Homo sapiens: one gene and its partners. The protein of the gene in region 1 interacts with the protein of each later gene in a pairwise test. Each region holds a gene or a part of one and is shown in the gene's direction. Other genes may lie near its edges.

The links.
Region 2: the proteins of SLC22A2 (region 1) and SLC40A1 interact in a protein complementation assay, tested with the Homo sapiens proteins (one large-scale study listed by BioGRID).
Region 3: the proteins of SLC22A2 (region 1) and TMEM134 interact in a protein complementation assay, tested with the Homo sapiens proteins (one large-scale study listed by BioGRID).
Region 4: the proteins of SLC22A2 (region 1) and TMEM41B interact in a protein complementation assay, tested with the Homo sapiens proteins (one large-scale study listed by BioGRID).
Region 5: the proteins of SLC22A2 (region 1) and TMEM161A interact in a protein complementation assay, tested with the Homo sapiens proteins (one large-scale study listed by BioGRID).
Region 6: the proteins of SLC22A2 (region 1) and HRCT1 interact in a protein complementation assay, tested with the Homo sapiens proteins (one large-scale study listed by BioGRID).
Region 7: the proteins of SLC22A2 (region 1) and TMEM176B interact in a protein complementation assay, tested with the Homo sapiens proteins (one large-scale study listed by BioGRID).

What each region holds. Positions count from the first base shown.
Region 1 is NC_000006.12:160,251,823-160,256,184, reverse strand, and holds part of SLC22A2 (solute carrier family 22 member 2), read left to right. Parts: intron 1-4,362. UniProt on the Homo sapiens protein: Electrogenic voltage-dependent transporter that mediates the transport of a variety of organic cations such as endogenous bioactive amines, cationic drugs and xenobiotics. Functions as a Na(+)-independent, bidirectional uniporter.
Region 2 is NC_000002.12:189,563,559-189,567,920, reverse strand, and holds part of SLC40A1 (ferroportin), read left to right. Parts: intron 1-2,321; coding exon 2,322-2,567; intron 2,568-3,695; coding exon 3,696-4,337; intron 4,338-4,362. UniProt on the Homo sapiens protein: Transports Fe(2+) from the inside of a cell to the outside of the cell, playing a key role for maintaining systemic iron homeostasis.
Region 3 is NC_000011.10:67,460,791-67,464,173, reverse strand, and holds the end of TMEM134 (transmembrane protein 134), read left to right. Parts: 3' UTR 1-2,464; downstream 2,465-3,383.
Region 4 is NC_000011.10:9,286,461-9,290,822, reverse strand, and holds part of TMEM41B (transmembrane protein 41B), read left to right. Parts: intron 1-2,280; coding exon of another isoform or gene 2,281-2,287; coding exon 2,288-2,381; intron 2,382-3,016; coding exon 3,017-3,121; intron 3,122-4,229; coding exon 4,230-4,362. UniProt on the Homo sapiens protein: Phospholipid scramblase involved in lipid homeostasis and membrane dynamics processes. Has phospholipid scramblase activity toward cholesterol and phosphatidylserine, as well as phosphatidylethanolamine and phosphatidylcholine.
Region 5 is NC_000019.10:19,121,022-19,125,383, reverse strand, and holds part of TMEM161A (transmembrane protein 161A isoform 1 precursor), read left to right. Parts: intron 1-3,564; coding exon 3,565-3,625; intron 3,626-3,715; coding exon 3,716-3,859; intron 3,860-3,962; coding exon 3,963-4,076; intron 4,077-4,217; coding exon 4,218-4,362. UniProt on the Homo sapiens protein: May play a role in protection against oxidative stress. Overexpression leads to reduced levels of oxidant-induced DNA damage and apoptosis.
Region 6 is NC_000009.12:35,904,455-35,908,127, forward strand, and holds HRCT1 (histidine-rich carboxyl terminus protein 1), read left to right. Parts: upstream 1-1,747; 5' UTR 1,748-1,833; coding exon 1,834-2,181; 3' UTR 2,182-2,682; downstream 2,683-3,673.
Region 7 is NC_000007.14:150,790,189-150,794,332, reverse strand, and holds the end of TMEM176B (transmembrane protein 176B), read left to right. Parts: intron 1-261; coding exon 262-372; intron 373-732; coding exon 733-789; intron 790-1,017; coding exon 1,018-1,245; intron 1,246-2,157; coding exon 2,158-2,277; intron 2,278-2,709; coding exon 2,710-2,802; 3' UTR 2,803-3,032; downstream 3,033-4,144. UniProt on the Homo sapiens protein: May play a role in the process of maturation of dendritic cells. Required for the development of cerebellar granule cells.

The sequences.
Region 1 (4,362 bases):
AATGTAGAATCTCCCTAATACCCGTGGGATTGCAAGAGTCCTGAATTGGGTTCCTGGGGCCATATATGACCATATATGTGGAAGCCATAACTTAAAGAAAGGGAAACAGGGTCTGCCTACAACACGAGGGGTAAATGTCCACCTCTGCAATATCATTGTCCCTGGAGAGATGACGAGAGGCCTCTCTGATGAGTCTTGTCTTCAGCAAGCTAGTAGTCAGTGTTTGTATGGATCAAGCTATTGCTATGTCTCTTACTTATCCAGCATTTTGGAATCCCACACTCACTGTGCTGCAAGTTTCCTACAACATGCAGCTTTGCTCTCTTGATGACCAATGAGACATTTTTAGAAGTCCTCAAAAGGAAAAGGAACCAAAAATTTGCTTCATAGTTGATAGGCACTTTAGATAACTTGGCCGTCAGGGCTAATTATTTAATATTCATAACACCGTTTATTGAGTGTTTTCCATGGCCAGGCACTGTGTTCAACATTGTGGGTAATAGTATTCCCCTTAATCAGCAATCACCTAGTGAGATAGTGATACATAACTATAGATTATTATATATAATACACAAACATATAATTTTATCTAGATATAAATATATAATTATGAATTTACATGTAAAATATAAATATATAACTGAAATACATGGTAAAGTCAATGCATTTTATGCTTGTTGCCCTCCCATGCCATCCCCAACTACATCTATGATATAATCCAAACCTGTGAGTATAATGTTAAATGCAAGTAGAACATTTTCTCTGATTATATTATTTTAGGCTGAATTAAAACTTGCAAATGTGTTAAGGATGAATAATGATGGCTTAATATATCACACCCCCAAGGCATATGCACTTCACAGGGGCCTGGGGCCCAACTGGCAGCAGAAGGGAAGAGGGATAAAAGTGGAGGCACAGGCCACGTGCACCTCATCCATCACCCATGGTTATTAATTGTCTCCTCAGCTGCCCTGACAAGGCTCTTCCTGGGGCTTTCTGCGGGAGGCTTGCAAGGTGAAAGGGAAGGTTTTTATTTTTATTGCTGCAGAATTGAGGATGATTCTTTAAAGATGACGCATTAAATCAGGAGAGACACATTAACAAGGGGAGGTCCGGAGTCCACCTTGCACCCCTGGGCAGCTCTGGCCCTGCAGGCATTCACTCTCTCTGCACTCCCTCCTCCGCCACCAGGTAGAGGTGCTAACACTCACTCCCTGACAGGCTGTGAGTAAACAGGTGACTCAATCTTTAACCCTTGCTCAGTGGGTTAAGAAATTAGTTAATTATTCACATCCCACTCAACAAGTAGGAGATTGGTCATAAATCCCTACTGACAGTGCATTCCTGTGTTATAAGCCCTGGTCAATTATCCACCTTCTTAGATGATCTCATTATTTTGTTCCTATTGTTGAAATCCCCTCTGTCAAGGTAAGTACTCATTATTCTTCCCCCAAAGGCTGTCTCCATGCCTCGACTTCTTTTTCTTACACCATCTGAAGCTTGGCCGGTCATTGCCCTTCTTCTGTTCTGTGCCTGCATGCAGGAGTGAGAAGCCTAGCCTAAAGAAATGAGAAAGCAATTTGTTTTTTGTATAGTTAATGCCTACAATTTCCAGATTTTATACAATAGGACAAGAATGTCATGGATCCCCATTGTATTCACAGATTAAGCCAACTTTAAATAAAACACATTGTCTTCCATGAATAATTTTTTAAAAAAACAGTAAGGCATTATGAAAAGATTGTAAATAAGACTAAGAGTGGACCCAAGTATAACCCATAACTTCCTCATCAATGATTTTGAGTGTCACCTGAGACAAAAAAGCAATTCCTCACCAATCCCAGGGTTTTTTTAATTTTAACAAGCAGCAATTATAAGTACTATATTTTTTATTTTTTTTATTTTTTGAGACAGAGTCTCACTCTATCGCCCAGGCTAGAGTGCAGTGGTGCAATCTTGGCTCACTGCAGCCTCTGCCTCCTGGGTTCAAGCAATTCTCCTGCCTCAGCCTCCTGAGTAGCTGGGATTACAGGCGCCTACCACCATGCCCAGCTAATTTTTGTATTTTTAGTAGAGACAGGGTTTCACCATGTTGGCCAGGTTGATCTCGAACTACTGACCTTAGGTGATCTGCCCTCCTTGACCTCCCAAAGTGCTGGGATTATAGGCATGAGCCACTGCATGTGGCCATAAGTGCTATATTTACTGTGTCATGCTTGTGAATGCTTAACAACTAGTTCTCTGGGAGGGAAAGCCCCAGTTTGTAGTGTTTATTGATTGCTCTGGTGTAAATATACCCACTGTGGTTCACTTCAGCCTACAAAAATGACATCACAGGACATAGAGTTGGCTAGAAGTGTGCACCATTACACAGCATTTCCACCATGCAGATACAGTAGATGTAAATAACCTCACAAGCACAGATGGCCAAATATAGTAAAATCATTGGAAAGTGATGTTTTGCATATTACACTTGCTTTCAATATAATTTAGTTGTAAATGTATATAATTTAATTTTTAATAATGGTTATGCTAACAATTAGCTTGCAAATTTTCTGTAAGTCTGATCATTAGCTCTTAAGAGCCAGCACCCTACTTTTATGTGTTGTGATGGAACTAGATCAAAGTGAGCTAGGAGGAGGGACTTGACTCTGGAGGCGGGGCTTGGACACCAGACCAAACTGAGGACTAGCTAAAACAGGTCCCAGGCAGGAGCAGCTTTCCATAAGACATGACCACCAGTGCACCATGTCGGTTTACTATTGCCATGGCAACATGGCAATCTCCAGCCCCTTTTAATGGCAATGACTCTACAACCCAGAAGTTACCACCCTTTTCCTAGAAATTTCTGCATAAGCCACCCCTTAATTTGCATATAATTAAACGTGGGTTGCATATAATCAAATTTATAATTTAAATTAATTTGCATATAATTAAAAATAAATATGAGTACAGAACAGACTCCTCTGAGCTGCTATTCCAGGCACACTGCCTATGGAATATCCCTGCTCCACAAGGAACAGAGGTGCTGCTGCTATACATTGCAGCTTCAATAAAAATGGCTATTTAACAACACCAGCTTGCCCTTGAATTCTTTCCTGGGCAAAGCCAAGAACCCTCCCAGGCTAAGCCCCAATTTTGGTGCTTGCCTGTCCTGCATCAAAAGCAGAACTAAAGTCCCAGTGGGTTGCAGTCATACTTACCCAACTATATGGGATCTTCCAAAACACGTTCACCACTGATTACTGTGTGCTAGTCACTTTACTGGGCATCCTCATTTGTTATATTTCATTTAGGATCACGAGAGCCTTTTAAAGTAGATTTCATTATCCATAATTTACAATGGATGAAGAAACCGAGGCTCTGTGAAATTAAAGCACTGCTTCCCAAATGCTAAGTTGCATATAAATCTCCTGGGGATCTTGCTAAAATTCAGATTCTGATCCAGCAGATCTGGGTGGGCCCAAAATTCTGTATTTCTAACCAGCTCCCAGGTGATGCTGTTCCCAAGCCCATGCTAATAGTCCTCAGCCACATTCTGAGTCACAAGTAGCTAAAAGACTTACCAAGCCAGCAGTATGGGGAGTCCACCCTTCCTGTCCTGTTTCTTCTGATTGTTTTCCATTTAACCATTTAAATAGCCCTGCTGAGGGGTAGGAGGAGTCTCAGACCTCTATCCCAGATTCCCCAAATTTATTCTAGCCATGCCTTATTATTCTTTTAAGTAGCATTGCTTCCCTATGTGGAACATGTCTCCAGTGAAGTTTTTCCACATCATGGATTTGATTTTCTTGCTCTGAGTTTCAGATGATGAATATTCCCTCTCATCACCTAAAAGATTTTGTCCATCTACATGGGGCACTACTGTGGTGTTCTACTGTGTGCCTGAAGCAGTTTTGAAAGTTGAAGAAGTACCATTTGAGTCAATGTTTATAGATTATATACTCTTTGAGGGTAAAGGAAGGGGTTTGGGTAGGAAAATGTGGGAAGAAATGCTAAAAAATTAAGTTGAGATATGACTTTGGAAGGCTTTGAATTAGAGGCCAAGAGGTTGTATATTTACAGCAGGGAGCCATTGACTGAGAATTAAGAAATTACATCGTTACCTAGGTGATGGGTTGATAGGTACAGCAAACCACAATGGCACACATTTCCCTATGTGACAAACCTGCACATCCTGCACATGTACCCCAGAACTAAAAATAAAAATTTTTAAAAATGAAATTACATGGTCAAAACAGAGTTTTAAGACTTAAGAAATTTACTAGTTAATACTAATTACCAATGTAACTGCTTAACCTTAAAATTTCATATTTAAAATATTACTCTTCCAAAATAATTATTAATAATGTGGATTATTTT
Region 2 (4,362 bases), on another chromosome or scaffold:
TTATTTGGATAAATTCCACACTTCTCTGTTGGCATATGAGTTGGAAACTTATTAGTTAGTGGGAGGCAGATGGTAGTGAAACCTCTGCGGTGGCAGTCAAGTGTAAGATCAATGAAGGCTGCCTTTGCCTCTCAAGTGAAAGGTGAAATATGTCAAAGTTCTCCTGTTATCATATATGCAATATATACTCATAGGGCTAATTGGAAAGCAATTGAGGACCAGGAAGAATTACAGAAGGAATAAAGGCAATCTTCTGTTAATGTACTTCTTCGTCACGTATTGTTTTTCTGTTAAGGTGACCCAAATGATTGCTTAAGACTTGTCTCACTAATTTTCACTCTGTTCTGTGAGACAGGAAGTGAAAAAGTAGATCACTTTCTTCACTTTCTTTTTGTCCTAAAACTTTTGGTTTTATTTTATTTTAATTAATTTTTTATACTGACACATAATTGTGCTTATTATGGAGTACATAGTCATGTTGTGATGAGATGAGATGGAGATACATCTCCATCATCTCAAACATGTATCATTTCTTTGTGTTGGACATTTTTTTAACTTCCTCTTTATTGATTTTGTCCTGCACTCTGACTCAGGAATACATTCCCGTAGTCAAACTCTAGACTTTGTTATCACCACTAAATTCTCTCCTCCCATAATCTCAGTCTTAGGCATCCATATTTTGAGAAATCACCTTCTGTCTTTCCACCAACTTCTTCACTACCACAGCCTCAACAATCCATGTGGTTGGCACCTACAAACCATTCATTCCACGGCCTTTTCACTGTCCATGATCTCTCTCTTGTCTCTTTCTTACCCAGCTTAAAATTCAAGGCCAGTCATGATTATATGATCATCTCTTGGCATATACCCTCAGCTCAGTTGGCCCCCTCTCGTTTTGTCACTTTTGTTTGGTAAGACTTTGGTTAAATCCAACTTTCCACAGTAGAGCATGGCTGGAAAAAAATGCACGAACTTGCTCAGCATTCTCACTTGAGGTTCAGGGCCACAGAGTTGGTCCTTTCATGCTTCCAGATAATCACACTATTTTCTCTGATTCTTTCCTTCTCCACTTTCCTAGAGGACCATTCACAGTTGTTTCTCCTCTCTCATCACATGTTCAAGTCCTCCTCCCCCATCCTCACTTTCGTCAATGACCTGGCTTTGTATTTTGCTGAGAAAATGGAATAAATGAGAAGAAAGCTTCCATGTGATTCCACCATCATGTCTCTCTTCCTACCTGTACCTGAAGCCATATATGTGGTCTCTACTCTTGTTACTATTGATGAATTGTGTTCCTGTCTAAGAGCAACTCCTTCAGTTATGCGGTAGATTCAGATTACATCCCTTATCTACTGTATCATTCCAGGCAGCACATAATCCTGCTCTAATTTTGCTCCTCTTAAAAATCCCTATCTTTAGCACACTTCCTTCTCTGCTACTCTATTTCTTTGTTCTTCTTTTTGTCAAAACATATCCAAAAGACTTGTCTATTTCCAATTCCATTTTTTGGGCAGTACCTTGCTTTCCATAAGGCCATGGGAAGCATTCACATTGTGCTCCAGGGTATGACTCACTGAAAATACAAATGGTGTCCCCTGGGGTTGGCACCAGTCTCTTAAATCAGCTTTATTCAGGCATTGCCCTTATCGTTCTCCTTTTTTTGAGGTCTCCAGAATCTCTCTTGTGACCAAGCTAGTGTTTCTTTTCAGTGCTTCTCGTTGCTGTGATGCTCTTTTTTTCAGTGAGTCCTCTGACCTCGCCTTATTTAGAACATTCCCCTGGGCACTCTCTGCCCTTTTGCTTCATTACTTTTCACCATAGTATTTAATAAACATCTGACATATGCAGTGTTTGTGTGTGTATACACACACACACACACGCACACACACACACACATATGCTTGTTGATTTATTGTCTTTTCTTTCCTGTGAGAATATAAACTCTGTGAAGACAGGGAAGAATGTTACTTTTCTTCTTTATAGTGTTAAGAATTGTTGAGAATAATGACTAGCTTATAATAGGCATTTAAGATATATTTGTTGAAAAAAATGAATGTAGAGTCACTGCTGTATTCATTTTAAAAAGCTATTAGACTGATTTATGCAATTCCAAGGGGATTATCATTGTTGAGGCAAATTTAGTGGGACTTGACCCAAACAACAAATATTTTTCCAACAAAATGTCTTTCTTACAAATGTACTTTTAGAAAACCACATTTTAGGAATCTATACTCTTGGTTTACAGCTTTGTATTGTGTAAATGGGCAGTCTCTCTTTGATGGGTTTGCACACTTACCTGCCTCTTTCACCTGCCTCTCTAGATATGAATGCCACAATACGAAGGATTGACCAGTTAACCAACATCTTAGCCCCCATGGCTGTTGGCCAGATTATGACATTTGGCTCCCCAGTCATCGGCTGTGGCTTTATTTCGGGATGGAACTTGGTATCCATGTGCGTGGAGTACGTTCTGCTCTGGAAGGTTTACCAGAAAACCCCAGCTCTAGCTGTGAAAGCTGGTCTTAAAGAAGAGGAAACTGAATTGAAACAGCTGAATTTACACAAAGGTAAACTGAACACAATGATCTCTCCTTTTGTTCTCATGTTCAGACCTTAAATGTTGGTGAAGATCAAAACTATTTTGAATTTGTATCAGGTTTTATTACCAGTGGGGGCCAGATGAGGTTAAATATATCGCTTTGGTAGACGAGGCAAGAGCAGGCTTTTGAGGATCTAGGGAAAAACTCCGGGTTGAATCTGGTGGGGTTAGAATGGGTCCCCTAGCCCTCTTCCTTGATGTGAGCAGTAGTTATAGAGGTTCAATTTTACTTGAGAGATAGCTGGGCAAAGCTAAGTCATAGGACTGGGAAAAAATGTGGGGAAAAAAAGAGAATGAGAGAATCCCTTGGACTCTGTGAGGAGGGAGTTATGTAGTCATTTGTAGGACAGTGGAAGGGAGTGAGGACACAAAGATGGGTATTTCACTGGAGAAGAGGACGCTGGGCTTCTGGGTAAACAGAATCTTTTATCCAGCTCTGCAGGGACCCAGAAAATAATATGCTGGTTGTTTTTTGTTTTTTTGAGACAGAGTCTCGCTCTGTCGCCCAGGCTGGAGTGCAGTGGCGCGATCTTGGCTCACTGCAAGCTCTGCCTCCTGGGTTCACGCCATTCTCCTGCCTCAGCCTCCCAAGTAGCTGGGATTGCAGGCATCCACCACCACACCCGGCTAATTTTTTGTATTTTTAGTAGAGACGGGGTTTCACCATGTTAGCCAGGATGGTCTTGATCTCCTGACCTCGTGATCTGCCCGCCTCGGCCTCCCAAAGTGCTGGGATTACAGGTGTGAGCCACCGTGCCTGGCCAATACGCTGTGTTTTTTTAGACAATTTTAATATTTTATCTGGTGAGTTTTCCTGCTGTTTACTTTGGTGGGAGTATAATTTCTAAGAGCAAGAGAGAGAGAGAAAAAAAAGAGGGATAGATCAATAGTATTTTGTTTATTTAATAAAAATGACACTTGATGATTATTCCTTGGCTGGAATTCTTAGATTATTAGTAAAAGAAAATACATATTACAATGTCTAACCAAGGGTACCCATTGGGAAGGGGAATAGAAGGAAAAAAAGTACTACTAATAATTGGCTTTTATTTCTACATGTCCTCCCCAACAAAATAATGGTATCTTTTCTTAACAGATACTGAGCCAAAACCCCTGGAGGGAACTCATCTAATGGGTGTGAAAGACTCTAACATCCATGAGCTTGAACATGAGCAAGAGCCTACTTGTGCCTCCCAGATGGCTGAGCCCTTCCGTACCTTCCGAGATGGATGGGTCTCCTACTACAACCAGCCTGTGTTTCTGGCTGGCATGGGTCTTGCTTTCCTTTATATGACTGTCCTGGGCTTTGACTGCATCACCACAGGGTACGCCTACACTCAGGGACTGAGTGGTTCCATCCTCAGTATTTTGATGGGAGCATCAGCTATAACTGGAATAATGGGAACTGTAGCTTTTACTTGGCTACGTCGAAAATGTGGTTTGGTTCGGACAGGTCTGATCTCAGGATTGGCACAGCTTTCCTGTTTGATCTTGTGTGTGATCTCTGTATTCATGCCTGGAAGCCCCCTGGACTTGTCCGTTTCTCCTTTTGAAGATATCCGATCAAGGTTCATTCAAGGAGAGTCAATTACACCTACCAAGATACCTGAAATTACAACTGAAATATACATGTCTAATGGGTCTAATTCTGCTAATATTGTCCCGGAGACAAGTCCTGAATCTGTGCCCATAATCTCTGTCAGTCTGCTGTTTGCAGGCGTCATTGCTGCTAGAATCGGTAAGAAATCTCTTTTTATATATTA
Region 3 (3,383 bases), on another chromosome or scaffold:
GACTCCTGCCTTGCCAGCCAGGAGCCGGCCGGAACAGCCTGCCCCACCCCCAGCCCTTGGATGACTCAACCAGCCCGTCTCTGTCTGGTGGCCCTGGCCGAGGGCACGCAGAGATGACGCAGGCCTGGGACCTGGAGGCTGGTATCCTAGTTCCAGCCTGGCTCTGGGGCCCTGGGCTGCCACAGCCAGCCCTGAATGTGGGCCATGTCAAGGCAATGGCCCAGCCCCCTCCACCCACTGCCCTCCTTCCCAGTCCCAGAGGTTGGGAGAACCTGGGGGCAGAGGGCATAGGAAGCCGCGCCTGACAGACACCCTCAGTGGTCAAAGACTTAGAAATGCAGAACGTTAGAAACAAACCATCTCAGAATTTTGGAACATCAGCATTTCAGAATCTTACGAAACAAGAAACAGAATCTTTGAGAAACCTGAAATCTGAGATCATAGTAGCTACCAGTTATCAATTTGTTGAAAGACCCCAGGATGGCCGGGCACGGTGGCTCAAGCCTGTAATCCTAGCACTTTGAGAGGCCAAGGTGGGAGGATCGCTTGAGCCCAGGAGTTCGCGACCAACCTGGACAACATGGCGAGAACCCATCTCTATTTAAAAAAAAAAAAAGAAAAGAAAATATACTAGGCCCTGCGCTAAGCACTGAACACGGGTTATATCTTGTAATCTTCACTACCTCCGTCCCATTTTACAGATAAGGACTGACTCACCCAAGGACAGCCAGCAGGTGGTAGGTAGAATTAGGAACGTAGCCCAGGGCTCTTCCCATGACACTGTCGGGGAGGGAGAAGGAAACCGGCACTGAGCTGGTCTCCCCTACCGGCCAACCAAGAGGCTGGCTGAGTGAGCAAGGGTTGGGAGGCCCTGTTGGTGCACCTGCCCGTACTGTCTATCTCCCCCACCAAAACACGGGTCCCACAAACCACTGTCTGCAGCACCCAACACAGCGGGGCCTTCAGGATTCTGAGTTAGAGGAATGGACACCCAGACTCTTGCTCTCGCTCCCACCTTTCCAGGCCCCGCAGACTTCCCACCCTCATCCCCCATTCAAGGCACTTAGGGGGCACCCATTGGATGCAGGAACTCCTAAACCAGTGGTCCCCCAACTAGCTATGGTAAAGGACCAGTTTTCATTTCTAATCCATCACGGTCCAGTACTTTCATAAGAAGAACTAGCCGGGTGCCGTGCCTCATGCCTGTAATCCCAGCACTTTGAGAGGCCACGGTGGGAGGATCACTTGAGCCCAGGAGTTCGAGACCAACCTGGGAAACATGGGAAAACCCCATCTCTACAAAAAATACAAAAACTTAGCCAGGCATGGTGGGGCGCCTGTAGTCCCACCCACTTGCGAGGCTGGAGTGGGAGGATCACGGAGCCTGGGAGGCTGCAGTGGAGTCATGATTGCACCACTGCACTCCAGCCTGGAAGACAGACTGAGACCTATTTAAAAAATAAATAAATAAATAACATAAAAATTTTAAAAACTAGAAAAATGAAATAAAAAACATACAGAGGCTGGGCGTGGTGGCTCATGCCTGCAATCCCAGCACTTTGGGAGGCCGAGGCAGGTGAATCATGAGGTCAGGAGTTCGAGACCAGCCTGGCCAACAGGGTGAAATCCCATTTCTATTAAAAATACAAAAAAATTACCGGGCATGGTGGTGCGCACCTGTAATCCCAGCTACTCAGGAGGCTGAGGCAGGAGAATCGCTTGAACCCGGGAGGCAGAGGTTGCAGTGAGCCGAGATCACGCCACTACACTCCAGCCTGAGCGACAGAGCGAGACTCTGTCTCCAAAAAAAAAAAAAATACAGAATACAAGTCCACAGTTTATCAGATTAATTAGACATAAAATTACATTTCAATAAATATAATCAGAACAAACATAGGAAAAAGGAAAAATGACAAAAACCATTGAATATGAACAAACAGGCAATTAACACAGAATCGCAGCTAACAACTTTTTACTCCTTGTTTTTTTTTTTTTTGTTTTTTTTTTGAGACGAGTCTCACTGTCTCCCAGGCTGGAGTGCAGTGGCCCGATCTCGGCTCACTGCATCCTCTGCCTCCCGGTTTAAGCGATTCTCATGCCTCAGCCTTCTCAGTAGCTGCGACTACAGGCACATGCCACCATGCCCAGCTAATCTTTGTATTTTTAGTAGAGACAGGGTTTCACTATGTTGGCCAGGCTGGTCTCCAACCCCTGAGCCACCTCGCCCGACTTCATTCTACAGTCTTAACAGAAAGCAATTTCAGAAGTGGTGATTCCCATCATTAGAAGTCTGCGTTAGGAATCAGCAAGGTATAGTCCACAGAGTGGTTTTTATATTTTGTAATGGTTGGAGAAAAGTCAAAGAATAATAAGATTTTATGACATAAAATTATATAAAATTCAAATTTCCATGTCAATAAATGAAGTTTTACTGTTATTTATTAAAATTTCTGATATAGCCACACTCATTTGTTGACTTGACTTTGCACTACAAACTTCAACAGCAGAGTTGCGTGAGCAGCTGCAACAGAGACCAAAGCCTCAAAGCTGAAAATAATTATTCTCCAGCCCTTTACAGAAAGTTTCCCCACCCTTAGTCTACATGAACACTTTGACAGAACACCGTGAATCTGACTTTTCTCTCCAGTTATTTATAAGATTTGCTTTTTATATTCTGTGGTTTCAATGGGATATATCCAGATATATATTTATTTTTATTTACCCTACTCTGACTTCAGTTTGTTCCTTCAATCTGGGGAGTTGAAGTCTGTGGAAGTCTTTATGGAAAATTTTCAGCCATTATCTCTTTGGTTATTGCTTCTTGTTCATTCTCTATGTATGTCCTCCGTCTGAGACTCCCAAGGACTTATCTGTCTTTTTCTTTGAGACAGGGTCTCTTGCTCTGTCACCAAGGCTGGAGTGCAGTGGCACGATCACTGCAGCCTCCAACTCCTGGGCTCAAATGATCCTCTCACCTCAGCCTCCTGAATAGCTGGAACTACAAGCATGAGCCACTACACCCAGCTTATTTTTTTATTATTTTTTTTAAGAGGCAGGGTCTTGCTGTTAGGCTGGTCTCAAACTCCTGGCCTCAAGTGATCCTCCTGCCTTAGCCTCCCAAAATGCTGGGATTACAGGCATAAGCCACCACACCCAGTCTTCCAGTGACCTTTTTTTTTTTTTTTTTCCGAGACGGAGTCTCGCTCTGTAGCCCAGGCTGGAGTGCAGTGGTGCAATCTCGGCTCACTGCAAGCTCCGCCTCCTGGGTTCACGCCATTCTCTTGCCTCAGCCTCCCTAGTAGCTGGGACTACAGGCGCCCGCCACCACGCCCAGCTAATTTTTTTTTGTATTTTTAGTAGAGATGGGGTTTCACTGTGTTAGC
Region 4 (4,362 bases), on another chromosome or scaffold:
ATAGGGCATCATAACACTAGTTTCTCTACTTTGTTTTTTTTTCCCCAATTTCAGCTGTAATTTTAGGTTTCCTTTTCAGAGAAGTAGGAATTGCACCAAATTTTGGGAAAGGAAAAAATACAGTTGCGTTAAACAACAAAAACAACAAAACACTTCCTGGGAACTTGTCCTCATTTATTTCTGCTTCTCTCAATTTCCTCAAGGGAAAATTTCCATTTATCTCCTTTCATCCTTTGGAGTCTTGCTTTCTTTTCTTTCTTTTTTTTTTTTATTATTATACTTTAAGTTCTGGGGTACATGTGCACAGCGTGCAGGTTTGTTACATACGTATATGTGTGCCACGTTGGTTTGCTGTACCCATCAACTTGTCATTTACATTGAGTATTTCTACATTTACATATGTGTGAAACTATCCATAATATGATGTTTTGTTTTGTTTTGTTTTTGAGATGGAGTCTTGCTCTGTTGCCAGGCTGGCTTGCAGTGGCGAGATCTCGGCTCACTGCAATCTCCTGCTTCCTGGGTTCAAGCGATTCCCCTGCCTTGGCTTCCCGAGTAGCTGGGACTACAGGTGCCCACCACCACGCCCGGCTAGTTTTTTGTATTTTAGTAGAGACGGTTTCACCATGTTGGCCAGGATGGTCTCGATCTCCTGACTTTGTGATCCGCCTGCCTCAGACTCCCTAAGTGCTGGGATTACAGGCATGAGCCACCCCACCCGGTCCATATAGTACAATCTTAACCCAAAAAGTGTGTGTGTTTGTGTGTGTGTGTGTGTGTGTGTTTTGTTTTTGACAGAGACATGTAGGAGACAGGTGGAAAATTTGAGGCTGATGAACCAAAGAGAATTTCGAGTTTTTAGTACTATATGTGGTTGATACTTGAAGCCATGGAAATTGCCAAATTTATCAAAGAAAAGGGATTGTGTGGCCAACAGAATGTTAGAGAAATTTCAAGAGTTGAGGGCAAAGAGAAAAATCTAGAGAAGAAATTACCTGTAATGTAGAAGAAAAAGTACAGTTCACTGAAGCCATGTTTCATGCAGGATGAAGTCTAATCCTATGCAGGGATCACTGAAAGGTGACTATTGAGAAAAAGTTATTATTGGCTGTGAGGAAGTTTCAATAGCATAGTGGAATAGTAAAGCAGGTCACAGGGAACGAGGAGAGAATCTCCTCTGAGGAAGTGAAGATGAGCGGTAGCTGGATAGGATACCCTGGTTGAGGTTGTTTTTTAAGTTATAGACAACTGAGTAGTTTTGTAGAGGAGGCATCCTGTGAAAGAGAACAGAGTTGAAGGTGAAAAAACCCAGGAGGAAGGAGGAGGAGATTGAAATGAGAACATGAGTAAAATGGGAACTAGAGAAAAAGGAATAGTTAATGAGTGAGGATAGATGGAGAGATGTTGAGGGAATTCACTTTGACTTGTGAGTAAATCATATTAGAGGGGAAAAAGGTTCAGATCCAAACTGGGAACGACAGGAAAGTAAAAAAAAAAAAAAATCTATTTTAAAAACAAGATTTGTGGCCCGGGTGTAGTCGCTCATATCTGTAACCTCAACACTTTGGGAGTCCATTGTGGGAGGATCGTTTGAGCCCAGGAGTTCAAGACTAGCCTGGGCAACTCAGCCAGACCTCATCTCTACAAATAATAAAAATTGGTGTGGTGACACACGTCCGTGATCCCAACTACTTGCAAGGCTGAAGTGGGAGAATTGCTTGAGCTTGGGCATTTGAGGCTGCAGTGAGCCATGAGTGCGCCACTGCGTTCCAGCCTGGGTGACAAAGCAAGACCCCTTCTCAAATAAGATTTGTGACTTTTACTATATTTTGTAATTTCTATTCTTATTTTTCTTATTTTCTTTTATTCTCTTGTAGTTCCTATTCCTTTAAAATGAGTAGTGAATTTAGGTAAACCTTCATAGTTAAATTAGAAATAATTGTATGTACATGATTTCCCTGAAAACATTTGGGAGTAAAATAAAATGTATTAGAGAAGCACTAAAAGATTACGGAAGACCTTTTCTTTTTTCTTTTGTTCCTCCCCCAAAGTGCCCGGTTCCTCTCTATCTAGAACATACGGTTTTTTGTCTTGGAAACCTTTTAGTAGCACACACTTACTAGTATTTATGATACTGTTTAGTAAATGGTCAACTTAGAGGCTAGACCTTTGGATATAATCTCATTGTATGATAATTTTTGTATTTATACTTTTTTCCTGAAATGTTACATTTGTCTTTTAAAATTCTACTTAATTATATTCTAATCCTTAACTTAAAAGTTACCAGCTTGCAAACATTTGCTATTCCAGGCTCTATATTTCTCAGTATACTCTCAGGGTTTCTTTATCCCTTTCCACTAGCCTTATTTCTTGTTTGTTTGGTAAGTATGAAAAAATAAAATTGGGAGACTGAAAAAACAATAGAATGATGAGGATGATGATGATACTTTAACCCTACTAGTCTATGTAAGCATAAACTCATTAATTGAAGAGGAGTTAATGTTAAAGTCCCTCCACAAGGAGGTGTTATAATTTGTTTTTCCCCCAGAACAGACCAATTATAGACTTAGTTGCATTTATAAGCTATGTTTTAGCTTTTCTTTCCTATTGGATTTTGTAACTGCGACAGTCCAAGGAGTGTTGGTGAGCACAATGAGTTAAGTCCCAGAGCCAGAGGTGGTGTTTTCAAGCTTAGGAACTGGGGGGGTCGGGGGTAGGGTCGGGGGGAGGTGGAAATTGGCTCCTGAAATTTTATTCTTAGGCTAAAGCCTAGCATTAATTATTTGGATATAGTCACTAGGTGTAATCACAAGTGCCAGTTTGTTTTAGCTGATCTCATTTGAGGTACATTTTGGTCTGAGAAAGTACTAGATCATCTCTGCACAAGAGATGTCATGCAGAGTACCCTCCCCACCTCTGAAAGAAGTAAATTAATTGAGCTTTTTACTCAGGTGAATAAATCAATGTGAGTAAGACGGAAAAATACAAAACGCTTATGGCTTCTTTTGTTTTCCAGTGTTCTGGACTTGGTGCCTCTTTCTGTTATATGCTTTCCTATTTAGTTGGGAGACCAGTTGTATACAAATACCTAACAGAGAAAGCAGTAAAATGGTCACAGCAGGTAAACATGTATTTTTAAATTATTTGATGTAACTCTTTGTTAATTGGAAGGTCTGTGTTTAGTCCCTACATGAATTAACTACATGTATTAACCCAACATAAATTAATTCCTAAGTTAACTCAAGTAATAAGAATTATCTTCTGACCAAATAAAAATGGGTGGTAGGCAAATATGAATGTTAATAATTTCAAATACAAATGTTTCAGACCTGTGATGGTAATTTTAATTCTTTATCTTAGTAAATTTAATCAGCAGAGAAGTCAGTGTGAATATAAAGGCATCCACATAATTAGATACCTATCTGTTTTATGTTAATGCAGTATTGTGTGCATCTGTTATGGAAACACTTGTATCAGCCAACTCCCAGTGCATTTTTTTCTTTTCTTTTTTTGAGACGGAGTCTTACTCTGTCACCCAGGCTGGAGTGCAGTGGCATGACCTCGGCTCACTGCAACCTCTGCCTCCTCGGTTCAAGCATTTCTCCTGCCTGCCTCAGCCTCCCAAGTAGCTGGGATTATAGGTACATGCCACCACGCCTGGCTAATTTTTTGTATTTTTAGTAGAGACAGGGTTTTACCATGTTGGCCAGGCTGGTCTCGAACTCCAGACCTCAGGTGACCCACCTGCCTCAACCTCCCAAAGTGCTGGGATTATAGGCATGAGTCACCACTGGCCTTTTTTGATGATTTCTTTTCTTTTTTGAGTCAGAGTTTCGCTCTTGTTGCCCAAGCTGAAGTGCAGTGGCGTGATCTTGGCTCATTGCAACCTCTGCCTCCCGGGTTCAAGCGATTCTCCTGCCTCAGCCTCCCAAGTAGCTAGGATTTCAGGCACATGCCACCATGCCCGGCTAATTTTTTGTATTTTTAGTAGAAACGGGTTTCACCATGTTAGCCAGGCTGTTCTCGAACTCCTGACCTCAGGTGATCCGCCTGCCTCAGCCTCCCAAAGTGCTGGGATTACAGGCATGAACCACCTCGCCAGCCTGATCATTTCTATTGGGTATACTCTGAAGTATCAGGAATGAGAATTTGAAATAAGGTGTTTATATTAAGCAACTTATTTTGAAGTTGTCCTCATCTGATGCTAATTCTTTTCTTTCTTATGACAGGTTGAACGTCATAGAGAACATCTCATTAACTACATTATATTTTTGAGAATAACACCATTTCTGCCTAATTGGTTTATTAATATCACATCTCCTGTGATAAACGTGCCATTGAAAGTTTTTTTTATTGGTACTT
Region 5 (4,362 bases), on another chromosome or scaffold:
AGCAAGACTCCATCTTAAAAATCAATAAATAAAATATTTCAACTTTTACATTTCATATAAGCTCCTAAACTACTCACTGTTGCTGATGGACAGTGACATTAATTTTTGTGTTATCATATAGGGGTCAAATTTGAGTGTCTCCACGGACTAACCTTGCTAAACAATTATATTTTTATTGAATTGCAGATTCTTTTTGGTTTTCTTTTGTTCTGTCTGATCCTTCCCCTTTGGTGTGGCTAGGACCTCTGGATTTGAGAACAGTACTGGCGTACCTCCTTTTCTTGTTTCCAATTTCTCAGTTAGCTACTTGGCTCATAAATTTTCAATCTTTTCTAATTTTATAGCATATATAGCATTTAATGCTATATATATTTTACCAGGTCTCACTTTTGTTCACCTAAGTTTTTTTTTGTTTTTGTTTTTGTTTTGAGATGGAGTTTTGCTCTTGTCACCCAGGCTGGAGTGCAACTGTGCAATCTCAGCTCACTACAACCTCTGCCTCCTGGGTTCAAGCAATTCTTCTGCCTCAGCCTCCTGAGTAGCTGGGATTACAGGTGCACGCCACCACGCCTGGCTAATTTTTGTATTTTTAGTAGAGACGGGGTTTTACCATGTTGGCCAGGCTGGTCTCAAACTCCTAACCTCAGGTGATCCACCCACCTCGGCCTCTCAAAGTGCTGGGATTACAGGTGTGAGCCATCACACCTGGCAGTTTACCCAAGTTTTGACTGATATTTTTTATTATTCTGTTTGGGGTGTTTTAACATTTCCCTTCTGATTTCTGTAGAGATGGGGTCTTGCTATGCTTTGACCTATGGATTATTAAATATTTTTAAATTTTTCAAACATAGATCTTTAAAAAATACATATTTATTTCTAGCTCAATTGCACAGATGGTCTATTTGAAATAATTTCTTTAAAATTTGGTAAGATTTGCCCTATGGCCTGGAATGTGATCACATTTTGTGACTATTCCTTGTTTTCTTGAAGGACATATTCTGTTTTTGTTGTTTTGCCTTTTTTCACATGTTCTAATTGAAGGACATATTCCCTGGCTCTATGAGTTTAATAAATTCAAATCTCCATCTTGCCTAACCTTTTGTCTGTGACTTATCAGTCAGCAGAAGTTAATCTCCCTCTGGGACAAGAGAGCTCTCAATTTCCCTATCAATTCTGTCAGTGTTTTCTTTATATATTTTGCAGCCTATTCACAATTCACAGATTAGTTCTATTCACAGATTTAGAACTGTTACATTTTCCTGGTGAATCAGCCATTTTATCATGATGTATGGAACCCTTCTGTCTTCTAATACTACTTTTTTTTTTTTTGAGACAGAGTTTTGCTCTCGTTGGCCAGGCTGGAGTGCAGTGGCGCAATCTCGGCTCACTGCAACCTCCACCTCCTGGGTTCAAGCGATTCTCCTGCCTCAGCCTCCCAAGTAGCTGGTATTACCCGCCACCATGCCCAGCTATTTTTTGGATTTTTAGTAGAGCCAGGGTTTCACCATGTTGGCCAGGCTCGTCTCGAACTCCTGACTTTGTGATCTGCCCGTCTTGGCCTCCCAAAGTGCTGAGATTACAGGTGTGAGCCACCGCGCCTGGCCTATTCTAATACTACTTCTTAGTCTAGTTTGGCTGGTAGTAGTATAGCCTTTCTAGCTTGCTTTCTTTTGATTAGTATTTGCTGTATCTTTTTAACATCCCTTTACTTTCAGTCTTCCAGTGACTTTATGTCAAGGTATGTCATCCTTTAAAAAACATGTAGCTGGATATTTTCAATGTAGTCTGACAGTCTTTGTCATTTAACTTTAAAGTTTAGTCTACTTACATTTATTGTGATTACTGACATATTTGACTTTGTTTCTACCATCTTACTTTTTTGCTTTCTATTTGTTCCTTTTCTGTTGTTGCAGTTGACATTGGCTGTCAGCCTAATTGTTGTTCCTTTGTAGGTGATCTGTCTTAACTCCCTGGCTGCTTTGTAATTTTTTTGTTTTTGGTGTTCTGCAGTTTCACTCCATTATGTCTAGGTATGGATTTCTTTTTATTTACATGGTTTGATATACTTTGTGTCTGTCTTTCATTCTGCAAACTTCTCAACCATTCTCTTCCAGTAATTCCTTTTATTCTTCATTCCTTCTCTTCCCTCCCTCTGGGGCTCTGATTTGATTTGCGTTGGGCTCTCTGTTCTGTCTTCCTTATCTCTTAGCCTCTCTTCATATTTCTCACCTACTTGTTTTTCTGAGTTGGAATCTGAGTGATTTCTTCAGATCTGTCTTCCAGTTCATCACTTCCTCCTTTGGCTGTTCCTAATGTGCTGTTTAACAACCTATTATTTCAATACTTACAGTTTTCCTTTGGAAGAGTTTAATTTGGTTCCTTTGCAACTCTACCCAGTCATCTGAAGGAATTCTCATGTCACTTGTTCTGTGATTACAGCTTTCATTTCCTTAGTCATTTGACACATAATTGACAGCACCAATTTCTGAAGTCTTTGAGGCCTAAACTTGACTGTTGTTTTTCTGTTAACTCTCCTTTATGGTGATTTGTTTCCTTATGCATTTGGTGATTTTGCCTGTGAGCTCATATGAATTTGCTCCTTTTTTTTTTTTTTTTTGACAAGGTCTTGCTCTGTGCTGGAGTGCAGTGGCATGATCTCAGCTCACTGCAACTTCCACATCCTGGGCTCAACCCATCCTTCCCACCTCAGCCTTCACAGTAGCTGGGACTATAGGCGTGCACCACCACCCCTGGTTTTGTATTTTTTGTAGAGATGGGGGTTTTGCCATGTTGCCCAGGCTGGTCTCAAACTTGTGAGCTCAAACGATCCACCCGCCTTGGCCTCCCAAAGTGCTGAGACTTACAGGTGCAAGCCACTGCACCCAGCCCTGCTCTTAATTTTTGAAAAATCTTGGGTCCTGAATTGAGGATTCCTTCCTCCAGGAGGACTTTGGTTTTCTCCTGCAGGAGTCCTTCATCCCCCTCTAGATTCCTTCTATAACCTAGGGAGCTCAGGCTCAACAGATACCCCTGAATGTTCCCAGCCCAATCAGGAGTGTCTGCCTGGTGCATTCTGTTTCGTTTTCTTTGAGACTGAGTTTCACTCTTGTCCCCAAGGCTGGAGTGCAATGGTGCGGTCTCAGCTCACTGCAACCTCCGCTCCCCATGTTCAAGCGATTCTCCTGCCTCAGCCTCTCAAGTAGCTGGGATTACAGGCACCTGCCACCACACCTGGCTAATTTTTGTATTTTTAGTAGAGACGGGGGTTTCACTGCATTGGCCAGGCTGGTCTGAAACTCCTGATCTCAGATGATCCGCCTGCCTCAGCCTCCCAAAGTGCTGGGATTACAGGCGTGAACCACCACTCCAATCTTGTTTCTTGTAAAAAGTACTGTGTAACTAGAGCACAAAATTGTCCTTGTGCCTGGCTCAGGGCCTGGCAGACCCTTGTTCATTCCTACTTGGGAAGCAAACGGATGCCTGAGGGATGGGGGGTTAGGGAACAGAGTGGCCTTAGAGACCCTAGGAATTCACTCTACTCGGTCCTCTTCTTATCGTCCCCAGGTCTGGCCAGCATGACCCAGAACTTAGAGCCACTTCTGAAGAAGCAGGGCTGGGACTGGGCGTGAGTCCTGGGAATGGGGGAGGGAGGCAAGGGCAGGCTGGGACCCTCCCAGGGTCCCCCAGGCAGGCTCGTGACCTGGTGTTCTCCTAGGCTTCCTGTGGCCAAGCTGGCTATCCGCGTGGGACTGGCAGTGGTGGGCTCTGTGCTGGGTGCCTTCCTCACCTTCCCAGGCCTGCGGCTGGCCCAGACCCACCGGGACGCACTGACCATGTCGGAGGACAGACCCATGCTGCAGTTAAGTGGGTCGCTTGGTGGGTGGGGGGACTAGGGAGCTTAAGGGAGAGACTCGAGGAGAGGGGGTACCCAGGCCTCACTCCCTCCTGCCCTCACCCCCCAGGTTCCTCCTGCACACCAGCTTCCTGTCTCCCCTGTTCATCCTGTGGCTCTGGACAAAGCCCATTGCACGGGACTTCCTGCACCAGCCGCCGTTTGGGGAGACGCGTTTCTCCCTGTGCGTATTGGGTGGGGCTAGGAGGTAGCTGGGGCTCCCCTGGGTGCCCTAGCCTCTGAGATTCAGGGAGGAGCCTGGGGAAGATCCTGGGGGGTCGGGGGCGACCTTCTTAGTCCCTTGCCCCCGGCCCTCTCCGCACAGGCTGTCCGATTCTGCCTTCGACTCTGGGCGCCTCTGGTTGCTGGTGGTGCTGTGCCTGCTGCGGCTGGCGGTGACCCGGCCCCACCTGCAGGCCTACCTGTGCCTGGCCAAGGCCCGGGTGGAGCAGCTGCGAAGGGAGGCTGGC
Region 6 (3,673 bases), on another chromosome or scaffold:
GCTGAGTCTGGGTGATTCCAAGGGGCCGTTTGAGCTGACTGAAGTTCTTCAAGTTCATAGTTGTAAGGTCCTGCCCCGCCGCCAGCGGCTGGTGTGGGGTGGGAGTCTTCCTGGAGAAGTTCTGAGGACGAAAATCCCCTGTTTGCCTTCCTCCTCCTCCTCCTCACAACAGACTTCCCTCCTTAACTTCCCTAGGGAAGGCAGCCGGGCTCCCAGGGCCCCAGGAGTCTGCAGGAGGAGTTCTTACTCCAGCATCATTAAAAGTTCAAGTAGCTCCCCCAAGGGCCAAAGAAGTGCCAGGATTCATTAGACCTGCTGCCCCCTGAGCCCAGTTTGGTTGAAGGGAATGTTTAGCCTTTTCATCTGGTGAGGGTTTTCATTAAGGGTTTGAGGCCTCCCTAAGAGAACTCACCTCAGACTGAGGTCAGAGGGGGAAGGGTCCCTGGAGGTCACCTCTTGCTCCGGGAGTTCTGCAGAGGAGACAGGCTGGATCAGGGCAAGGGGTTTGCCCAACATCACAGGGTGGAGGTGCTGCCAGAACTCAGAGAACCAGCCTTGCGGTGTCTGCAGACATTCCTCCAGGCGGTAGGGAGATGAGCCTGGAGGGAGGGGCTGGGGACTCAGCCTGGAGGGACCCTGCAGAGCCAGACACAGAGCTGGGGCTTTGGGGAGCCCCACTGCATGTGAGGAAGAGCTTGGAGAACAGCCCAGCATGCCCACAGCAGAAAGGGTTGCCCAGAGAGAGAGTGAGCACCTGTTGCTGAGGTCTGTCAGCAGGATGGGACGGTGCCTCCCAGGAGGAACAGAGGGGATTTGGGCCTGGCGGGTGGGCTTGGAGGGACAGTCAGTACTGCTCAGATCCTGCCGCTCTGTAAATGCTCCACTAGGCAGGAATGGCACTCATCACTGCTGGGCAGGGAGGGTGTGACAGAGCAAGGAGCATGCCATTTATGGCCAGTTGAGACTGTTGAACTGGGAACCAGGAGGCTGGGCTGTGCCTGCCCTCTCTGAGCTCAGTGGCCTCCTTCTTGCCTCCCAGCAAGCTTGGGAGGACACCCAGACCCTCCTGCCTCCCAGAACAGGCCGGATGGAGGACCTCCCTGGATGGCAAAATCTGCCTGTGGTGCCTCCCTGAGCTTCTCAAGCTCATTGAGCTCGGGATGGCTCATCTGACAGAGCCTGACTCAGCCCCGGAGGGCTCTGCAGGCTGCAGGACAGGGAATCACAGACTCTCAGATGTCAGTGTCTCCTGAGCCATGGAGTCCATTGCAGTAATATCAGTTGCAAACATGACGGGAGCTGGTGTTGCTGCTTTACGCATCTCAACTCCTTTAGTCCTCGGAACACCCTACTGAGGAAGGAACCGTTATCAGCCATTTTACAGAAGAGGAAACAGGACAGAGAGGTTAAGTAACTTGTGCACAATCTCAGAGCAAGTGAGTGGCGTGGCTCCAAAGCCCGTGTTGTTCATCTCTGTTCTACACAGTCTCTACGAGAGGAGACTGAAGTGCGGAGAGGGAAGGTCACTGAGCCAGGCAGCAGGAGGGTTTCTTTCCTCTAGACTCAGGGCTCCTCCCTCAACCAGATCCAGCCTGACAGCTCCTCTGTCTCCACCTGGCCTCCCTGCCAGGCCTCCTCAGAGTTAACAGCGGCCTGGCCTCACCCTTGGCCAGCAGTTGCAAGTCCAAACAGGCTTCGCCCACATTCCCTGGCTGCTCTCCAGCCCGCAGCAGAGACAACAAAGTTCAGTGACTGAGAGGGCTGAGCGGAGGCTGCTGAAGGGGAGAAAGGAGTGAGGAGCTGCTGGGCAGAGAGGGACTGTCCGGCTCCCAGATGCTGGGCCTCCTGGGGAGCACAGCCCTCGTGGGATGGATCACAGGTGCTGCTGTGGCGGTCCTGCTGCTGCTGCTGCTGCTGGCCACCTGCCTTTTCCACGGACGGCAGGACTGTGACGTGGAGAGGAACCGTACAGCTGCAGGGGGAAACCGAGTCCGCCGGGCCCAGCCTTGGCCCTTCCGGCGGCGGGGCCACCTGGGAATCTTTCACCATCACCGTCATCCTGGCCACGTATCTCATGTGCCGAATGTGGGCCTCCACCACCACCACCACCCCCGCCACACCCCTCACCACCTCCACCACCACCACCACCCCCACCGCCACCATCCCCGCCACGCTCGCTGAGGCTGCTGTCGCCGGTGCCTGTGGACAGCAGCTGCCCCTGCCCTCCCATCTGTTCCCAGGACAAGTGGACCCCATGTTTCCATGTGGAAGGATGCATCTCTGGGGTGAACGAGGGGAACAATAGACTGGGGCTTGCTCCAGCTGCATTTGCATGGCATGCCCCAGTGTACTATGGCAGCAGAGAATGGAGGAACACTGGGTCTGCAGTGCTGAAGGGTTTGGGGAGTGGAGAGCAAGGGTGCTCTTTCGGGGCTGGACAGCCCGTCTTGTGACAGTGACTCCCAGTGAGCCCCAGAAATGACAAGCGTGTCTTGGCAGAGCCAGCACACAAGTGGATGTGAAGTGCCCGTCTTGACCTCCTCATCAGGCTGCTGCAGGCCTCTGGCGGGCAGGGCACTGGGAGAGGCCCTGAGAATGTCCTTTTGGTTTGGAGAAGGCAGTGTGAGGCTGCACAGTCAATTCATCGGTGCCTTAGTCCAAGAAAATAAAAACCACTAAGAAGCTTTTGTGAAGAGGCTCTTGATTGCAGCATAGTGGGAGGGAGGGAGCTGCCTGGCCTGTGTCCTCATTGCCCTGGGACCTCCCTCTCTGATGGGAAGCGTGTGGCTGGAGCAGGCGGCTTCTGTCTGGTTCTTAGGGGCTGGTTGTGGAGTGGGAAGAATTGGGTGGGCTCTGTCTGAGCTCTGAGGGAGGATTCAGGGTTTGCACAAAACCCTGCCCACAGCAGGTCCTGTGTGCACCAGCAGGGCTCTGGCCTTCCGCGGGACAGTCCTCGGGGAGAGGAAGGTTGGAGCCGCTGCGAGCCTGGCTCCCCAGGGCTCTGCCCCTGTACTTTTTTCAGCCCATGTCCAGGGCAGACTGAGCTCTGAAACTCGAGGAAGCCCCATCCACAGGCTGCCTTGAATCCAGTTTCCTTGGTAATTGGATCAGGGTTTCTTCTCCAAGCCTTGCGTTTTCAGCCATCCTGCCCCAGCTGGTGCCTGTGTGTGGTGGGAGGGCTGGGAGGCAGCGAGTGGAGTTCTTTAAAGTGGAGGCTGTGGTGCTGGGGTGCAGGGTGTTGGATGGCCTTGGGAGAATGCTGGGGTCTCACTTTCCTCTTCTCTGCAATGGGGTGGATAACAGAGATGCCCACGTGCCGAAGCCTGGAGGCTCGTTGGAATATGCTCTGTGAACAGCTAGTGGGATCCACAGCGAGGAAGGAAGCCTGGCTCTGAGGCCTTCAGCCTGTGCCTGTGAGCTGAGGTGGGAATTGGGGGAAGACAAGGACTGGGGGCCAGGAGAGGCAGTGGGGAGGGGCTGGAGAGCAGGCCAGAGACTCAGGGACCTGGTGACTCACTGGAATAGAATGTCCTCTTTCCTTTCTATTTCCCAGTGGATTCTCTGTGAGGGCTGCAGGAGGAGGGAGTGAGAGAGAGAGGGAGGCAAATTCACACTGATTTCTCCCACCTGAGGTTTCTGGGTTGGGAAAGTTGACCCTAGGCTGCCGTGCAGT
Region 7 (4,144 bases), on another chromosome or scaffold:
GGGATGAGAAAGTGTTGAAGTTGGGAAAAATTGATGAAGGATAAATAGCCAAGCCTATGAGAAGGGTGAGGGGAGACCCAGGCCAGTGCTGCTTCATGGATTTTAAGGGGACAGAATCTTCCAGAATCAGAGCTGCAGAGAGGTCAAGGCAGAGGAAAAGGAGAGGAGAGCCACCTAGGTAGGAGCCAGGCAGCTGGTCCCAGGGCAGCCGGGGCATGTGGACTCACGGGAAGGGGTCTGGTTTCTCATCCTGTCTTGCAGGTGACTCAGATATTGCTGGGGGTTGTGAGTTGTGTTCTTGGAGTGTGTCTCAGCTTGGGGCCCTGGACTGTGCTGAGTGCCTCAGGCTGTGCCTTCTGGGCGGGGTCTGTGGTGAGTAAGGAACAGGCTGTGAGCCTGGAGGGAGGCAAGTGGTGATGGGCAAGAAGGCGCTTATGGATCTTGGTTGGGGCTTTGGGGAAGCGACCAAAGTCTCTGGAGCCAAATGGCCTTTGGCCATGAGGAGGCTGCTCTGGGGTGTAGCTAAAACCCTGTCACTTCCATTTTTCTCTTGAAGACAGATGGGAGGGGTGGGGCAGGTATAGGTGGAATCCTGGTCTGTGTGTCAGAGTTCTTTGTCTGTCCCTGGGATCCTGCTTCACATTGGCTATTCTGGGAACTGCTGGTGGGAGGGTGATGATAGACCAATTCAGAAGAGTAAACTGGAGGCCTTTTTCTGGTGTCTCTTTTCAGGTGATCGCAGCAGGAGCTGGGGCCATTGTCCATGAGAAGCACCCGGGCAAACTTGCTGTGAGTCTTGGACACCCTCTCTCCACCTTGTTCACTGACCCCCTCCTGAATTCTGCTCCATTATCTGTCTTCTGCCCTTTGGTTGTCAATATCTTGGGGTCTTTCTTGGAGGGGAGGAGAGGGTTTCCTGGACAAGGGCTGGGGAAGAGGAGAGGGATTTGAGGCGGGGACCTCATGACTCTTCCACCGATTGAAGGAGCGTGTGTCATGACCCTCTTTCTCTTCCAGGGCTATATATCCAGCCTGCTCACCCTGGCAGGCTTTGCTACAGCTATGGCTGCTGTTGTCCTCTGCGTGAATAGCTTCATCTGGCAAACTGAACCCTTTTTATACATCGACACTGTGTGTGATCGCTCAGACCCTGTCTTCCCTACCACTGGGTACAGATGGATGCGGCGAAGTCAAGAGAACCAATGGCAGAAGGAGGAGTGTAGAGCTTACATGCAGATGCTGAGGGTGAGCAGGAAGAGTCCAGTCTTCGGGGACCCATCACAGCTCTTTTTTCCCAGGGAGCTGGGGGCCCTGGAGGACAGAGATGTAGGCTCTTTGAGCTTGGACTTCATGCTGGGTCTTTCATTCAGGAGGTTTTAATGTAAGCTACAGACATTTTTCAGACCTCATGACACGAAGATTCTCTGAATCAAGGAGGGTGAGGAACAAAGAGGAGACATTTCAGAGAGGAGATAGTGGGTCACCCTTCTGGCTTTTCTGGTGTGTTGGTATCACAGTTTTCCATTACTGAATTAAAAACCACACCAAAATGTAGTGGCTTAAAATGACAACTTATTATTTCTCACGGTGCTGTGAGTTGGCTGGATTCAGATGAGCCATTCTCACTCACGGGTTTTCTCATGCAGTTACAGTCAGATGGGGGTGAAGTTATCCAAGTGCTCGCCGAGGCTGGAGGTCTGAGATGATGTAGTTGCATGGTCCGGAGCTCAGCGGGGGCTGTCAGCAAGAGCCGGCAATGGCTTCTCCACTTGGCTTGGGCTTCTCATAGCACAGAAACTGGATTCCAATGGGGAGTACCCTAGTTGCAAGCATTTCAGGAGACAGAAAGTAGAAGCTGCCAGACCAGCTAAGGGCTTCCCTGTCACTGTATAGTGTCACTTTCACTGTGGCCAAAGCAGTTCTAGGCCCTTCCAGATTCTACGGGTTGAAGGAATAGTCTCCACTTCTTGACAGGGAGTGATAAGTTCACTCTGCAGACAAGCCAACGGGATGGAAGCTGTGGCTGGAAACACAGTCAGCTGTGGTGGGAGCAGCAAGCTGGATAGAGTCAGTGCCTGGGTGGGTGGAGAGGGTGGTGATGTGGGCAGCATTGGAGTAGCTGACACCTGACTATCTTTGTTCTTCCCTTATCTCCAGAAGTTGTTCACAGCAATCCGTGCCCTGTTCCTGGCTGTCTGTGTCTTGAAGGTCATTGTGTCCTTGGTTTCCTTGGGAGTAGGTCTTCGAAACTTGTGTGGCCAGAGCTCCCAGCCCCTGGTGAGTTGTCGGGGAGGGGCCTCTGGGCAGCGTGAGTCTGGGTGGTGAGTGTGTGGGACAGGTAGGAGTGCGGGGCCAGGGGCACCCGAACCTGAGGCTGGGCCTGGTGCCCCTCAGCTTCTTTCCATATGCAGCTCTCCCCTTTGCTGTCTGGGGAATGTGGCCATCACCATGGTCCTGGGCCAACTGTCGCCGCCCTGTGCCTCTCTGCGCCCTCCTCTGCTCTGATCTCCCCACTCTCCCCTCTGCCCTGTCCCAGGTGTTCGTCTGACTCCCCTTCCTCTGCCACCTTGTTTTTTTTTTGCCTGATCTGCTTTTCCTGTCACCTTTTCCTTTCCCTCCTCCTTTCCTCTTTCTGCTTTCTGAGTTCTATGATACTAACTCTGCCTGCATCCTTTTCCCCTAAGGATTTCTTTTTTCTTTTTTTTCCAGAATGAGGAAGGATCAGAGAAGAGGCTACTGGGGGAGAATTCAGTGCCCCCTTCGCCCTCTAGGGAGCAGACCTCCACTGCCATTGTCCTGTGAGCTGCCAAAGACCCCACGGGGTGCCCGCATGTCCCTGTCTAGGGCAGCCCAGGGCCCCCACTCCTGGCTCCTCACACTTGCCTCCCCTATGGCCGCTCTCCAGACCCTCCTCCTTTCTTCTCCCCACATCCGCACCTGCTGTTCCCACTCTGGGGTTCTCAAGTCCATGAACAGATATTGTTGCATTTTCCACAATGCTGATTAAACATAATAAACAATCCAGAAAAGCAGTTTTGCCCAGAAAGATATGGTTTCCCTTTGTTTATACACCTCGTGCGCCATGAAAGGCCTTTCTTTGTGTCGCTATGTATGAGGTTAAATGGGAGCTGATTTATCCCATTAAAACACTGTCCCAAGAAGATTAAATTTAATTATGTTCTGCTGTACATCCAGGTGGCAAAACCCCTTTTTATGATTTTCTTCAATTCAGTGTAAAGTGTAAGTCTAGTGGGCCTAGAATCTTCTTACCTGCTGAGATTGTCTAGGCTCCTACAACCTCGGCCTGTAGACTTAAGAGAACTGTGTGGAGCATGGAATGAGATTTTTGCCCCCTCCCTCCCTGTCTTCCTTCCTTTCTCTTTTTTCGTTTTGCAGTAATTAGTGTTGGTTCTGTCTCTTTTCCTGTCTCCACACACACATAAACACATCCTTAGTCTTCCTTCCTTTCATTGTAAATGATAGCAAACTGATTTTGACTTTTTCCATTTTCTTTATATATGAAGATATAACATAAATATATAGATGTAAGCATTTCTGAAGGGCAGGAAAGCTGGTAGGGGCTTTATGAAATCTCCATGAGGCCAGTTTCATGACTTAGCAGCCCCACAGGGCTGGTCTTCAGATCCAAGGCGATGGGCTGCAGGGCCTGCACCTTCCCTCTTGGCAGAGCGGTGCCACAGAGGTGCAGAGCTGCTGCGCTGGGCAAGACCTGCTCCTGCACAGGACTTGGAGTAGGGGCCTGTGCCGAGGGCGGTGCTGCTCTTCCTGGGGCCCTCACCAGCCTGTGCTTTACATAGAGGCTTGTAAAGAAGCCTGCGAGACAGGAGTGTGTTCAGAATATGGACAGGGTCAGCCGATTACAGCCTGAGGGGTAAATCCAGCCTGCCATTGAATTTTGTAAATAAAAATGTATCTAAACACAACCACACCCATTTCTTTACACATTGTACCTGTTTTTGTGCCACAAGGGCAGAGTTGAGGAGTCTTAACAGAGACTGAATGGCCCACAAAGCATAAAATATTTACTATTAGGCTTTTTACACACAAAGCTTGCTGGCCCCGATGTAGGAGCTTGCAGTGTAGAATGTTACGTTCTGTTTCGCTGTTGAGGGGTGTGGAGTGC